Linked DNA regions of Homo sapiens: region 2 is linked to region 1. A link means that fine-mapping ties the variant in region 1 to the expression of a gene that starts in the linked region. Tissue or cell type: whole blood. Region 1 holds a variant in brackets; the other region holds the start of a gene. All regions are shown on one strand. Distances are from middle to middle.

Region 1 (8,267 bases):
CTCTTTATATTCTGAATCAGGTCATATAAAAAATGTCCCTAATTTGCTATAGAGTTCTCTCCCTCTTGTGCATTTGAGTTGGCATGGAGACCACACTTGGGTGATTGTAGTACCATGCTAAATCTTTGATTTAGAATCACCTGTTCCATTGGTTTGACATGCAGTGATTAGAGCAAAAGTTATGTATCTCCCAGCAGTGTCTATGGAAGGCTTATTGCTTTTCCATTTCTGTTTTCTTTCTCTCATGGGATAGAAGTCCTTTGTGAGTAAAAGGGTTTGGCAGATGATGTGCTTGGAAAACACAGGTTAAAACTTAAAAAAAAAATTACATAAATTCCTGAATCAAACCTTCAGGATTAGTGGTTGTTTATGATATAACCATGGGTACTTATATCATTGTAATGAATTTATCTGACATTCTAGCACCCAGAAATCAGTTACCTTGATATTTTATCACTTTACCTGGTTAGTACTAATTTATTATTATCCAGAGGCATAAAAATTTAAATTATTTACCATTTGAGTTTTGATGTTAATTGTATTTTATTATATTTTAAGTCTGAATTTGGTAATCCTCATAGTTTTAATCAAAATATTAGACCAACTAGAACATCCAGTCTCCATTCTAGTTAAATTATTTTTATTCAATATAAGAATATAGAATTAAAAAAGTCTTATTTAAAATTTAATATGGAATGGCCATTGAGGTCAGCTAGTTTGAGAAAACCTAGAAACCTTAGTATAAGAGCGTCTTATAAAACTAGGTGGATACGACACCCAAAGTGGTTTTTAAAAAATTTATTGTTCGGAGCAAGGCTAGGTACTCTAGAAGCATTAGTAATTGAGTTACTTGTGGCTTTGTATTATTAAAATATATGGTCCTTGAAGATGTCTCCACGGCTGAATCATTTTGAGATTCACGTTTTAAGTAGTTTCATGTGGTACATAAAAGGCATTTATCTTGATGAACAAAAAAATGACTCCATCCTGTTTATGATTTAGCATCTTATAACAGCGTCTTTGTAATTTGAACTCGAACAAGACAAATAAAAACAAATCAAAGTCCTTATTAGAAATATATCCAGTTCAAAGTGGATTTTTTTTTCTTGTTTGTGATGTTGTTTAGGTATGGAGCCTGTGTGTGGGATAGCACATTTGTATCAGGCTAGTTGCCAGTGTTCAGGGTACGCCTCTCCAATCCAGTCCAGGTGGTCACAGTCTAGAGTTGTTAAATTATATGTGGTTCTGGCATGTTTGGTTTGACACCAGCCAAAGGTTTTATAAACCCTAGCATTATTGACATATAGTCTTAAAAATATTATTACCTCTTGGACCTTAATGTCTTAATCTCATTGTTAGGTTAGTAAAATTAATGTGCTTCTGATAATCTGGTTTAAGTGTATTATGCCTTTTCTTGGGCTATATAATTTATGAAAACTTTATTTCTAGCTTTGTACAGTGGCAGTATCATAGCCAATGAGGTTTATCTGAGGCATGATTATTGCTAATTGAAAACTTTATTTCTTGCGAAAATAGAATATAGCTATATCACTGACATGGATGCACAAGCTACTGTTTTAAAATAAGTTTATCAATGCTAGTGTAGCAATTTGGTCACGTAAATGCATTTTTGCGGGGTTGCCTCTTATTTTGGATTCTATCAGGTAGGATTATTATTTTCTATTTGAAAATTTATTTCATGGCTTATAAAGGCTGTCCGTTGACCTCTGGTTAATCTATTAGTATGGATTTAAAGTACAGCTGTCCCTCAGTATCCGTGGGAGTTTGGTTCCATGACTTCCCTTGGGTACCAAAATCTAAGCATGCTCTAGTCCCTGACTTAAAGTGGCATAGTATTAATATTTGCATATAACGCATGCACATCCTACTGTATACTTTTTTATTTTTTATTTTTTTGAGACGGAGTCTCACTCTGTTGCCCAGGCTGGAATGCAGTGGTGCGATCTCGGCTCACTGCAACCTCTGCCTCCTCCTGGGTTCAGGCGATTCTCTTGCCCCAGCCTCCTGAGTAGTTGGGATTACAGGCACCCACCACCATGCCTGACTACTTTTTGTATTTTTAGTAGAGACAGGTTTCACCATGTTGGCCAGGCTGGTCTCAAACTTCTGACCTCAGGTGATCCACCCGCCTCGGCCTCCCAAAGTGCTGGGATTACAGATGTGAGACACTATGCTTCGCCCCTCCTGTATACTTTAAATCATCTCTAGTTTGTGTACAATACCTAATACAATGTAAATGCTGTGTAAATAATCATTAATATGGTATGGTTTAGGGCATAATGACAGGAAAAAAAGTTTGTACATAATCAGTACAGATGCACTATTTTTCCTGAATATTTTTGATCTGAGGTTGGTTGAATCCCATGGAGGGTTGACTGTACTTGATTGTTTTTCCCCTAGTGGGATATAATTTACATACCATAGATCTTAACTGTACAGTTTGCTAAGTTATAACAAATGTACACATCTATTAATCCACACCCAAATCAAGGTATTGAGCATTTATAACCTCAGGTCTCTTCCCAATAAATCTCCCACTCCCTTTCCAGGCAACCATTGATGTGATTTCTATTATAATAGGTTAGTTTTCCCTGTTCTTGAACTTCATATAAATAGAATCATACAGAATGTATTTTTTTTAAGGCTGACTTCCTCCTCATAACATATTTGTGAGAGTCATCTATGCTGTTGTGTATTTCAGTAGTCGTCCCTGTTTATTGATGAGTATTGCATTGTAAGGGTTTATTACAGTTTAGCATGTTAATGGATATGTGTCTCCTCTGACTAGAGATGGGATGGGATCCACATCCAGTGCTGCCAGCTGTAGGAGTGAAGGATGCAAGGGCAGGAGCCAAGCTGTCATTAAAAAAACCAGTAGAACACTTTGTTTACTCTGTCCACTACGTGTTAAAAATACTTGGTGTGGAAGTGTTCAGTAGTTCGTTCTGTTTGTGTCAACATTGTTTTATTTTTTAAGTTTCCTGAGATCAGAGGAGCTTGTTGTCCATTAAGTTGTTCTAATATGATGATAGGTTAAAGCTGTGTGCCAAGTCCATTTAATTTTATAATAGGATTGTTTGTTATAGCAAATACTTTAGAAATGTTAGTTATTTTTAAAGCCATTATTAGTCTTTATTATTACTGATTATAACATTTCATCATGTGGATTTATCATATTTTACTTAATTGTTGCCATATTGTTAGATCTTTAGTTGGTTCTGGTTTTTTTTCTACTAAGTAATGCTAAAGTAAAAGTCATTTATGTATCTTATTCCATTTTTTGGACTTTTTTCTCAAGGTAGATTTTCAGAAACATAATTTTAGGGTCAAATGTTTTAAACGTTTATATTTTTTGGTATCTATTGATCAATGTTCCTTATTTGTTTTCTAAGGGAGTTGATTAGTTTACAGTGACAGCAAAAATATGCTAAGGGCCAAGGCTTACTGTACTTTAGTTTGAATATATATTGTCTGGAAACATTTTGTTGTTTGAATTGGGAGGTGCTAGAAAGAAAAGTAAAAACATTTTGTATTATACTTATAAAATGCACTCTCATGGTTCTATATTTGATAACTAATGAAGCATCAAATACATTTCTCATTTTTGTATGCTATGTTTCTTTTTTTGCAAATTTTCCCTGATTACATCTTTTATGTTGAGAATATTTGATCAAAAAAGGAAGCTACCTATATTGTGAATGATCTGGGATAAAACATCATCTTATGCGGGAGAGACTAAATCTTGGTGTTCAATTCTCATGAGGTAGAATGTTCAATCCAAGAAAAAAAGCCCTGAGTCAGAGCTGATGTGCTACATGGTCATTGCCATGCATTGTGTTAAATCGTTGACTGACATTTAATTTTTCAATAACCTGAAAGGTAGGTGGTGTCTTCATTATCCATTTGACCCACTCTCAAATAAGTCGGACTTTTAAGAGAAACCTTGGGTTAAAAGTAGTAGAAGTAGCAACTGGAAAAAGGATAGTGTAGGAGAGATGGCTTTCAGTCTGCCTGAGGCTGCTTTGCCCCCAAATTTCTTCTCTCCATACTACCTTTGCTTTTCTACTTCATTAATTATAACATTGGAAATGCCACCAATTGCAGTTGTATTCTGCTTAAGAGTCAACCTCTCTTAAAATGTTAAAAACCCCTAGAAGGGGATTTATTCTGGAAGATCTTGTGTTATTAGCTATTAATATGACCTAATCAGACAGTTTTTTTTTTGTGGTGGGGGGAGGTTGTTGTTTTTGTTTTTTTAAACTCTGTGGGACATACCTATTCCTAGGGGTGGAGTGTTGGGAGGAGGCAGGCGAGGTTGCATGTGGGTTACAGGAAAGAAGGTGGAAGAAAGTTTCCTTCCTCTTTCTGGGATGTAGGGGGCTGGCCCGGTGCAGAGTTTTGACATAGGAAATGCTTGTCCTTGGCATCCTGCCATCTCCTTATTCATACTTCTACATCTCAAAACCCTACTCCTTGAC[C/T]GCAAAACCCAGCCCTCTGCTATGTGCATCCAACCATGACTCTCCACCCAGATCTGCCTTTCTTGTCACTAAGCGTTTCATCTTCTAAACACATCACCCTTGCCTGCCTTCTCCCCACACTCCTCCCCAAGCTCCACCTTGCAGGATAGCTATGGCTAGCCGAGTCAAAAACAACAGCAACAACAAAAGCTGTCTTTTCATGCTTGCATGTTTTCTTAGATATTTAGAAGTTATATATATATGGAGCAATCGGACCCTTTGGTAGTCTCTTCCTAATAAACAAACTGCTAATGGCTCAGGATTTAAAAGACATACTACATAAATTATTTCCCCCTATGGAATAAATGCCCAAGCTGAAAATAAACTATAGATCCTAATAGCCAAGCAGAAGGAGTATACTTGTCTAAGCAAAACATCTTCTATGTAATTTGGCTTGTCAAACAATGTGAAGTAGGATGAAAGCAACTTACTTTAAAATATGCAGCTGATGTGAGAGTGTCACACAGATGTTAATTGTTTGGCTTGGGTGTCTTCCATTTCTCATGCTCTACAGTGTCTTCACTGATCAGTGGTGGCTTCTCCCCTCCATTTCTTTGTTCATTGCAGAAAGCATCTCCAAAGTAAAAAATGTGCAGCCTTTTATTTGTCTCCATTGGTTGGAAATCAACATATACAAATAAAAAAGCTTTTTTTTTTCCCTGTTTTTCAAAATGACAACATTTTAAGTTAGATTTATTTAATCAGGGGCTATGTCCTTCTACTTCATGTTTCTCCAAACACTTAAAACTGTTGCTGTTCACCGAACAGGAAGAGTAACGTGTAGAGCCTGGTTACTGTTCTACAAAACACTGGCTTGATGATCAAAGGCCTTTCAGACTCCAAAGGCCTTTCAACACGCCAAAGTGAGGCAATCTCTAGTGAGTGGTGGGTAATATTTCCCAGAGAAGCCACAGTCCATATATAGCTCCCCTTAACCCTTGTTATATTTGTTAGCATTGTAGAGATCCAGAAAGACATTCCTTTACTTGCTCCCTGACTTTCTTTTAAATAATATTTGACCATTTAAATGGTACATAGAAAATGCACCACTTAACAAATACATAAAATTTAACAAATATGTAAAAATAAATAGGAAATGTTCATATCACACCTAACCAGAGATAAAACGTATTAACAATTGTGGTATAGCCCTCTAATACTGTCTGTTGTTATGCACACATGTGTTTACCCAAAAAAGGGGTCATACTGTAGATTCTTTTAGAAACTAGCTTTTTATACTAAATGTATTAGAAACATTTTTCCAAGTCATTAAATATTTGTCTACTAGATCTCTTTTAAGAGCTGCAAAATATTCAATTTCATTGATATTATAGAATTGACTTCATTTTTCTCTTGTTATTGGACATTTAAGTTCTTCTCAATTTTTTATAATTTAAACAACACTATAATTAATAGTTCTATAGCTAAGTATATTCACATTCACAGTTTGTTCCATTGTGTAATATAACAGCTTGGGGTCCTTCTGCAAGCAAGGCTTACATGCAGTTCATTTATTTGGGAAGTGATCCCAAGGAGCCACAGTGAGTGAATGGAGGACTTGAGCTGGAAAGGAGGGAAAACCGGTTCATAGGTGCAGTACAGATCTGGCCATAGCTACATGTGACAGGACCTTTGAAAGCCTTATAACATATGTCTCAGAACTGTCTTCTAGGAGAATACCAGGGGGAAGTATTTCTCTTCCTTTGATCCGTTCTCCACTAGTCAAGGGTGGTCCCACAGCATTATTTCCCACATGCTTCCAGACTATGTGGGTATGAGCCCAGTGCATCACTGAAGGCCTAGGATAGGAAGCCAGAGAGAGGTATGGCCGGGGGCTGGGGTGAGGCCCTGTTACGATACATCTTCAGAAAGGTGGTCAAAGCCTGCTTGGGCCTGGTTGCCGCAGTGGTGGGTTGGGCAAGAAGTAAGGCTGAGAGGATTTGTAGTAGGATACAAGAAGTGTCTGGTACATATACATTCCTAGAAACAGAGTTTGTAATTTTGTCTCAAAGGACATGCACAATTGTATCTCAAAATAGAAATACACATGGGAGTCATAAAATTATGTTCAGGTTGATTCATTTATGAGGTACACATTCTGAGACCTGAGGATGTGGCAGGGGGTAACAGACGTGATCCTACTGCCACAGAGCTTACATTCCTTTGCAGGAAGACAGTAAACATGGGAACAAATACATAACATCAGTGCTGACAGCAGTAGGTGCTGTGAAGCAAATGAAATGAAGCAGTGCTGTTAGTAGTGACTTGAAAGGGACTGAGCCCATGGTGAGAACACCAGGGTTCTCATGATTTTAGATGGCACACAGATAAACTGAGAGTGAAGAGACTCAGGGTTGGGTTGATGGAATAGAACTAAAGGAGAAGGATGTAGGAAGGAGGGGCGAGGGCCTCTTTACATTCACTGTCCGCTTTGCATTTTTCCTAGAGGCAGATGTACCCAAGAGAGATATTTTGGCTTTTGGAGTGTGGCCTTCCCTCAGTGTATATACTATATGGAATTTAATCACTCTTAGATTCTTAGAAAATATTATTAACATTCAAAATATATATCAAATTATAATTGCTCCATCTTTGATGTTTTGGAATATACTTCAGGATCATAGAGTGCCTTGGGGTTATTTTTAATCAATCTCAGTGTTAACACTAGTGCAACTCTGCACTAGATGGAAATTTCCATTAGATGGTGGCTGGGGGTTTATTTTATCAATGTAATTCTACTTCATATGAGAAGCAGCACTGTTCAACTGCTCCTTTGCTTTAGAGAGCTCAGAAAATAAGTTTCAAAGACATAAATTTATTCATTGGACCTTTTAGTTACAATGCCCAAGATATTTTTGTGACCTAAATAGCAAATTAAGAAATCACCTCTTTACATTGCTAGGTGTTTCTCACATTTGTTACCGATAGTACAATTTATCCACTTCAGTAGAAAGTAAGCCATGGGATTATGATAGCTCCAGATTAAAGCACATTCTTCTTTTTCAGTGATATGTAAAACCACAGGATCAGAATTATATTAGATATTGAAATATTAGAATATTAAATCTGATCTCCTAAATCAGGGTTTTCCACATTCTGATCACTTGTAATCATTTGTGGGCCAGCTTCAGGATTTTGCTATATTCTACAAGTGCTGATGCTATTAAATTTTTAATGTTTTTCTCTACAGTGAGTCAATTTTTGCTTAAATAAGTTTACTTGGGAAGGAATGTTTATATTATTGTATTATTGAAATAAATGGAAAATAACTTTAAAAAATGTATTTCTAACTATGAACCTATATTCTCTTTTTTTTTTCTTTGAGATGGAGTCTCACTGTGTCACCCAGGCTGGAGTACAGTGGTCCGATCTCGGCTCACTGCAGCCTCCGCCTCCTGGGTTCAAGCGATTCTCCTTCCTCAGCCTCTCAAGTAGCTGGGATTACAGGTGCGCACCACCATGCCCAGCTAATTTTTGTATTTTTAGTAGAAACGAGGTTTTGCTATGTTGGCCAGGCTGGTCTTGAACTCCTACTCCTGACCTCAAATGATCTGCCCACCTTAGCCTCCCAAAGTGCTGGGATTACAGGTGTGAGCCACCAAGCCTGCCCTGAACCTATATTCTTAACTATTAATGCAAGAAGTTTATCTGTATGTCATCTAAAATCATTATGCACATTTTGGTTAGTACCGCTCTCATAGCAGGCTTGGCCTGTCCCATACCAGGTGT
Region 2 (8,000 bases), 70 kb before region 1:
TTTATCCACTTCTTAAAAGCCTTCAAACTGAGGGCAATGTAAGCAGTCACTATACTTGCTATGGCACAGTTTAATGGTAGGTACAATTTCTTACCTATAGGAAAGATTCAGCCTTCATACTGCCACCATTTTGAAAATGCCAATTACAGTCATGTCATATTACTAAGTCAGGGTTTGCCATAGAAAGAGAATCAACAGGATATATATAGAAATAAATTTATTATGAGGGATTGGCTCTTGTGATTATGGAGGCTGAGAAGTCCCACAATCTGCTTTCCGCAGACAGTAAGCCCAGGAAAGCCAATGGTGTAGTTCCAGTCCAAACCCAAAGGTCTGAGAACCAGGGGCCCTGGTCCATGTCTGAAAGCCAGAGAATCAGGAGAACCAATGTCCAAGGATAGAACATGGATGTCCCTGTTCAAGCAGAGAGAAGACAGAATTTGCCCTTCCTCTGCCTTTTTATTCCAGCTAGGCCCTCAAGGGGTTGGCCCACCCGCAGTGGAGTGGGTGGCTCTTTTTTATTCAGTCTACTGATTCAAATGCTAATCTCTTCTGGAAACACCCTCATGGACAAACCCAGAAATCTGGGCATCTCCTAGCATAATCAAGATGACATATAAAATTAACCTTCACACCAAGATCTCTCCATCTTCACCATACTAGAAATTTTCAGAATATTTGGTAATTGTGGTAGTAGGCTGATTTTAGGCTCAAAAAGGCAGTATGGATTATGATCGGAAGTCTGTGTGTGACCTAACAGTAAACTATGTGAGAACTGTTAATCACCTCACAATCACACCACCAGGTAATTTGTTAGAATAAAACCAAACTCAGCTATATAAGTAAACATTTATTAGATGAAACCATTAGCAAGCAGTGCAGAAACAGTTCACACAGTTGATTTGGTAAACTCAGTGAAATCCCAGTTCTGTGTTCCTACAGATGTTTCAACCATACCTTCCATAGATGGTTCTCTTTAGGTTGATGTGACAACACCTTAAAAGCATAATTGCTAACTTTATAGTCAGCAATTATATTCCAGACTTGACTAACCCTAAGAACGATTTTGAAAGGTAGGAAGATATACAGAGAGTTTACCAGATCTTATGCCCTGTTTAAAAGGCGGGGGAGTATCCCCAAAATATTTAAGACAATTCATATATGCTGAATGCAACTAATTTAAACAAAAGACCACTTCTACCATTCCTCATGTAAAGCCTTTAGGGCTAACAGGAATATTTTCTTTTTGAGACAGGGTCTCTGTTGCCCACGTTAGAGTGCAGTGGCCCCATCTTGGCTCACTGCAACCTCCACCTCCCGGATTCAAGCAATTCTCGTGCCTCAGCCTCCCAAATAGCTGGGACTACAGGTGCATGCCAACATGCCCAGCTAATTTTTTTGTATTTTTTTGTATTTTTTAATAGAGATAGGGTTTCACCAGGTTGGCCAGGCTGGTGTCACAACTCTTGACCTCAAGTGATCTACCACCCTTGGCCTCCCAAAGTGCTGGGATTATAGGCGTGAGCCACTGTGCCCGGCCAACATTAATATTTTTTATTAGCTACTACAGCTTAGAGTAGCTGCTATGGGAGTGTGGCCTTTTTGATTAAATACTAGCTGATCAACCCTAGAATATAAATTCTTGTTTTATAACATTTAGATTTAAATAACAATAAGAATGTAAGCTCCATGAAGGCAAGAATGCCTTTTTGTTTTGTTCACTGCTGTGTCTAAAATAATGCCTGGCTCAAATATTTGTTGAATGAGTAAATATGCTGACTTTGCTGAAGTATTTAAGCAAGTTACAGATATTATACAAGTAAATATTTTGGGCACAAGCACACTTAATGAAACAGTAAAAAAAAAATAGGTTTGAAACACATAATCCTTCGTTATAGGAGGCTCAAGAGTTTAAAAGGAAAAAAGGGGGAAGATACCCAGGTAAGAGGGCATGCATGCTAGCTTTCCAATACTTTGATATTACCTGCTTTTTCTAAGACTGTATCAACCTGTCGCCCACCCATAACCTATCTTTTCATAACAGAGTCCAACTAAACCTAAAAATTAAAACTGGAACCTAGCAGCTTCTACGCAATCTAAGAATACTTTGTTCCCTCTCTCAAAATCTTTCCCTGCTTTTGAATAATTGACTTTTGAATTCATAAAAACCTTCCCTTATTAATCATCCTATTACTTGCATCATAGTAAACCCTGATCAACTCTTAAAACATTAAAAGACATTACTATATTTCTTAATGAATACACAAGACCTTTAAGTACAAATGCTTTTATATTCAGCCCCTGTAAAGCCATCAGATGTTTGAAAGTTTTTAAACACGAACCAAAGGGTTTAATTTTAAGAACTTAGCTAGGAATGGGTGAAATCCTACCCAATTAATAGAGTTCTGCAAATTAGTAACAAAGTGTAAAATGAAAGGAAGGGTCCCTTGGAGATGTGAAATTCTTCTATTGAGAGTCCTGTCTTCTTTATTCAAGAAGTTTGTAGCCATTTTCAGAATTCACTCAAGAACCAACTTCTTAATTTAGATATCAGCGAACAAGTCTGTAAAAAGCAAGTATTTGTCAGCAATATGTGCTTTATCTTCCCAGTTTTTAACACTTTATGCCTATTTACATATTGATAAAAAGAAAAGCCTAGAACATTTCTTGTAAGGCCTCTATTTTCTATCCAGAGCTGAAAGTTCAGGTCATAAAAACACACACACACACAAAACCCACTGTATTTGAGATTATCAGTCTCTACCAAAACAGGGAGGGAGAGTAAAACTCTCCCTTTACAAATGGCTTGACAGAGAATTTTATAGAAATCCCTATCCCTTTTGCCATCCTCCCATTAATCCCTCTCGCTCCCCTGCCACCCCTTTTTTTGAGACAGGGTTTGCTTTGTCTCCCAGACTGGAGTATAGTGGCACGTTCACAGCTCACTGAAGCCTCGACCTCCCCAGCTCAAGCAATCCTCCTATTTCAGCTTCCCAAGTAGCTGGGACTACAGGCGTGAGCCACTGTGCCTGGCCCTCTCTGTCTTCTCTAACTTACTACACCATCCAAGAAATGAGACAGTGAGGCTTAAGACACCCAAATCTTGGTGAAAATATAGGATGGGGGTTGGGGGTGTAGAAGAAGTGACTGCCTATCAAGAAGTGAGAATTTCAGAAGTAACTCATAGGCATGGTGACTAAGGAGTTAACAGTGAGTGAACAATCAACTCCAAAGTCCAGGAGAGCTGTCTAGATGGGCTACACTGCTCTTCTCCCATAGGAGCCCTGTTTCATCTCACTGCTTCTCCTTAGCTTGTCTCTTAACACCATCTCCATTTGGTGTCTGCTTCCTCCTGCCCTATTCTCTTAAGTTCCCTTCCTTTACCCTCTGCCAGAATTGTCTTTTCAGAGCGAGTGGCGATGAAAATGGAGAGCATGGGTTTTACAAGTAAACTCTACAGAATTTTGTAACTTGGTGTTTTAGGATATGTGGATGTGTGTAAGAAAAGGGCAAAGTGTCTCAGGTTTCTGGGAGGTAACGGTGGATAAAGTTGGCGTTTACTGAAATGGTAACGCTGCAAGGCAAGTAAATTTGGGTAAGAAGCTGTTAAGAGTTCAGTTTTGGACATGTTTAGTTTGAGACAGCTGCGTGGTCTGCTCATGGTTAAACAGCTGTATAGTAAAAATAGCTTTCGTTGAGCACTTACTACTGCCAGGCAACATGCAAATCACTACGATCTCAATCTTCACTACACCCCTATGACCTGGGTTACTAATGGTCCCAAATGGCAGATGAAAAAATAAAGCTCCAAAAGGCGAAATAACTTCTCCGGTCGCTTCATGGTGCTGCAGGAACTCAAGCCTAGCTGGTTTCATTCCAAATCATGAGAAAATATGACGCCAAGTTTTCTCCACACTTCTTTGGAGACTCCCACGGACGTGCTAAAGAAGGACATTTTACTCCTAGTCCTTCTCCCCCACCCACCCGACTGCGCCACTCACCAGCTGTGTGATCTTGGACATATATAAACTCTCTGGAATTCAGTCCCCTCCCCGCCCAAAAGCGAGCAAATGATCTCTAAGCTCCTTACCACCCCAATTTTGCATTCGAGATACTCACCATGGCAAAAAATACACAAAGAGAAACACCACCACATCGAAAAGGATGAAAAGCCAGAGGTCCAACCAGTAGGAGTGTTTGGGAAGCCCATTTGCCCCAGACTGAGGCCTCACATCGAAGTTCTGCCTCCCTCCCTCGCTAAAGCCTCGCCGCTCCCGGAGACCATCTCGACCATCAACACCCGGTGCGTCCACCTCCATCTCGCTCCTGCAGCTTCGTAACAACCCTAGAAACCGAAAATGCTTAAGTTCCCGGACTTTGGTGTTCGCCGCACCGGAAACTGAGCGGAGTCCGGCCGCCTGCGCAGTGCGCCGCGCCCCGGGTTCCGGAATGCACTCTGAACCTACTCTTCCCAGCGCGCAGGCGCCTGGCTCGGCTTTCCGCTGCCTCCGTGACCGCTGGCATGAAGCGCGGCCTCCGCCTTGACACTAAGTCAATGGGCCCGCCTACTTCTGCCTCGCGGCGTCCCAGGCAGATAGCTGGTTATTCAGGTTTCGTTGGAAGAAATACGTTCTCGTCCCCCTGAAAGGCCCAGTCCAGTCAGGTGATGGACTCCTCCCTGAAACTGCACGAGGTCACCTCTCCTATCCCCGTATTCCGTTTGGATCCTTATGCCAACGTGTTAGGAAGGCCCCCTCTGGTGGGTTTTGTACTGTCTCTAGCATTTGACACTTAATATTTAAACACCACCAATGAGGTGGACGTCCTACTCACGGGACTGAGTTTCCAAACGGGCCAGAGAGCAGCACGTGAGCATTTTGCAGGTACTTCAAGGGAGTGGGTTTAAGAATAACCTGGCCGCGCCCCCCTGTAATCCCAGCACTTTGAGAGGCCGAGGCGGGCGGATCACCTGAGGTAAGGAGTTCGAGACCAGCCTGGCCAACATGCTGAAATCCCGTCTCTACTAAAAAAAAAAAAAAAAAAAAAAAAATCCAAAAATTAGCCGGGCGTGGTGGCAGGCGCCTGTAATCCCAGTTACTCGGGAGGCTGAGGCAGGAGAATCGCTTGAACCCGGGAGGCGGAGGTTGCAGTGAGCTGAGATCGTGCCACTATTGCACTCCAGCCTGGGCAACAGAGCGAGACTCCATCTGGGGGGAAATGGGGGTGGGAAGAATAACCCAAAGGTTATTTGACTTTGAGTGTGAGCCTCAGCAAGAACAGAATGCTAGCAGGAAGAAAATGACCTATACTGCCTGGATTTTACCTCGTGGGTCCAATTTCAAATATTCTCTTTCTTGTCACATTATGATTCCTGAATTGTTCAGAAAATAACGGGCACCCAGACATATAAGTGGTTCTCTTGGTGCATAGTAAATGGAGATAAGACTGTAGTTGTGTTTTTACAAAGTCATTAAATCGTCGTAAAACCTCTTTGAAGGGGCAGTACTCCATCTTATAGAATTAGGAAATGAGACACAAAAGGAGTGAATTGTCTAAGGTTACTAAAAAAATTATAAAGCCTAAAATTAACTCCAAATCCAGCACTCTTAAAGCTGTTCCATAGCTTCCTAACCTTGCTCCAATTTGCCTCCAAATCAATTGCCAGGTTTTAGAGACAAAGATAGTATACGACCTTTCAAGAAAAATGCTTTGTAGATTCTGGGATGAGAGGGCCATTACCTGAGAATTAATTAGATTGTGTGCTGTAATACAGATTGTCTGATGGTAGTAGACAAAAAGACCCTGGGCTTAAGTGGCATTGAATCTTTACAAAAATTAGGAAAGGCAAATAAACAATTGCCTCTACCAGAGATGGAAGCATTCTTCTCGCTGACAAGGTAGGATCAATTACTCCTAGTTATTGAAGTAGGATTGATAAAAAATTATTGAGATTATTAGTGTTGAAGAAGCATGACATAAACTGAACAGGTCTTGAAATGGTTTTAAACTTGTCTTTGGCCCAGAGTCACATGCTCATCATGAGGGGATGTTGACAGTATGATCTGTTCTAGAGTCAGGAACGTCTGCCAGACTTGGAAGAGCAACTAGTGCAAATAAGGAGGGGTTATTTAAACTAAATTCAGTTGAAAGATTCTATTTCCGACTTTACCCTTGTAAAAGTCCCACTGATTGTTGATTATTCCACATTACAGAAATGAGTTTAGAGTGTGTTATGGCTGATTTTGAACTACTGGCCTCAAGTGATCCTTCTGCCTCGACTTCCCAAAGTACTGGGATTACAGGCATGAGCCACCTTGCTCAGTTGGCATTTGCCATTATCAAAGCAATTTAAATTTTAAAAAGTACTGTACTGAAATCCAGGTTCACTGTCAGTCATGCAATACCTCGGCACTTGTCCAACCACCTTGAACTTTCTACTTCACATGTTCAACTGAAAAATATGCACCAGGGACTACAGATTGAATCATTGCACTGCAACCATGATCCAACACTTCCATAATTCTGTCAGCACAATTAATCTGATTGAGCTGGGGTGGAGAAGGTGGTGTATGAAAATGCTATAACCATCAGGCCAAAGACAGCTAAGTGTTTTTAAGAAGACGTTACAGATCTTCTGAACTTCAAGTGCAATAAGTTTTCAGGAGGGAGATGATGATGAATTTTGCTTTAACCTAAGGGATAATGCAAATTTTTCGTATGCAGCTCTCAAGCCAGTATATCCATGTGATAAAGCATCCTCATGATCATCCTAGGAATTAAATTAATTTTATAGAATAACCTCTCCAACAGTGGAGAATTTGGTTACTGTAATTTTCATCTGGAAATATATGTGTTTATCTTAAATTATTCTTTCTCATCTTAACTTTGTCTTTTCCTCCTTTTCAAGTTGAGTACCTGTCCTAGCAACAACCCTGTTGATTGGTACCACAGGTTATTTCTCCATCTTCTGGGTCATTTTATTTATTCATTTTGTTGTTATTGTTCTCTTCAATTCTTTTTTTTTTTTTTTTTTTGGAGACGGAGTCTTGCTCTGTCGCCCAGGCTGGAGTGCAATGGTGCGATCTTGGCTCACTGCAACCTCCACCTCATGGGGTCAAGCGATTCTCCCTGCCTCAGCCTCCTGAGTAGCTGGGATTTCAGGCGTCTGCCAGCACGCCTGGCTAATTTTTGTATTTTTAGTAGAGACAGAGTTTCGCCATGTTGGCCAGGCTGGTCTTGAACTCCTGACCTCAGGTGATCCGCCCGCCTCGGCCTGCCAAAGTGCTGGGATTGCAGGCATGAGCCACTGCACCCAGGCTGTTCTCTTTCATTCTTACTCCTTTGTATATCTTCAATAGTTTTCTTTGTTTAAGAGTTGTACTATCTGCTGGGCGCTGTTGTTCACACCTGTAATCCCAGCACTTCGGGAGGCCAAGGTGGGTGGATTGCTTGAGCCTAGGTGTTCGAGACAAGCCTGAGCAACATGGCGAAATCCCATCTCTACAAAAAATAGAAAAGTTAGCTAAGTGTGGTGGCACACACCTGTAGTCCTAGCTACTCAGGAGGCTGAATTGGGAGGATCACTTGAGGTCGAGGCTGCAGTGAACTGTTATTGTGCCACTGCACTTCAGCCTTGATGACAGAGCCAGACCATGTTCCCTCCATGCTCTAACAAAGAAAGAGTTGTACTATCATCATAACTAGGTTGCAGCTTCTCTTTTATCTTCATCTTGGCCTTAGCAGTTCCCACCTTTATACCCACTATTAATCTGGCTCTACTCTACTCAGCCAACCTGGTACCCAGGAAACATTCTTTGCTCCAGTCAGAGTGCTTTCTTCCATCTTCCTCATGGAAACTATTCTCTTGGCCTCTGGGCTTTGGTGCATGTTTTTCCTGTTAAACTGGAATGCTTTCTCACCTGTCCAAATCCTACTCATCCTTCAGGGCCCCACTTAAGTGCCAACTTCATAAAATTTCCTTCACTACAATTCACATTGAT

Evidence for each region. PIP is the estimated chance that this variant, and not a neighbour inherited with it, causes the effect.
Region 2: it holds the start of ARLN, and the variant in region 1 is fine-mapped to the expression of ARLN in whole blood (INTERVAL, PIP above 0.99). The same link has a PIP of 0.9 or more in neutrophils.

The regions. Positions count from the first base shown.
Region 1 is chr4:119,366,115-119,374,381 of GRCh38, forward strand. It overlaps the pseudogene KLHL2P1 and the pseudogene RNU4-33P. Among named protein-coding and RNA genes, the nearest start is that of LINC01061, 40 kb to the right of the region's middle. The variant C/T (reference allele first, on the strand shown) is at 4,500.
Region 2 is chr4:119,296,217-119,304,216 of GRCh38, forward strand. ARLN (allregulin) reads right to left here and starts at 4,429. Exons shown (of 2, transcript NM_001001701.4): 1 at 4,120-4,429; 2 at 203-2,563. The coding sequence starts at 4,319. The coding sequence ends at 2,563. RefSeq lists enhancers at 4,023-4,072, 4,173-4,402.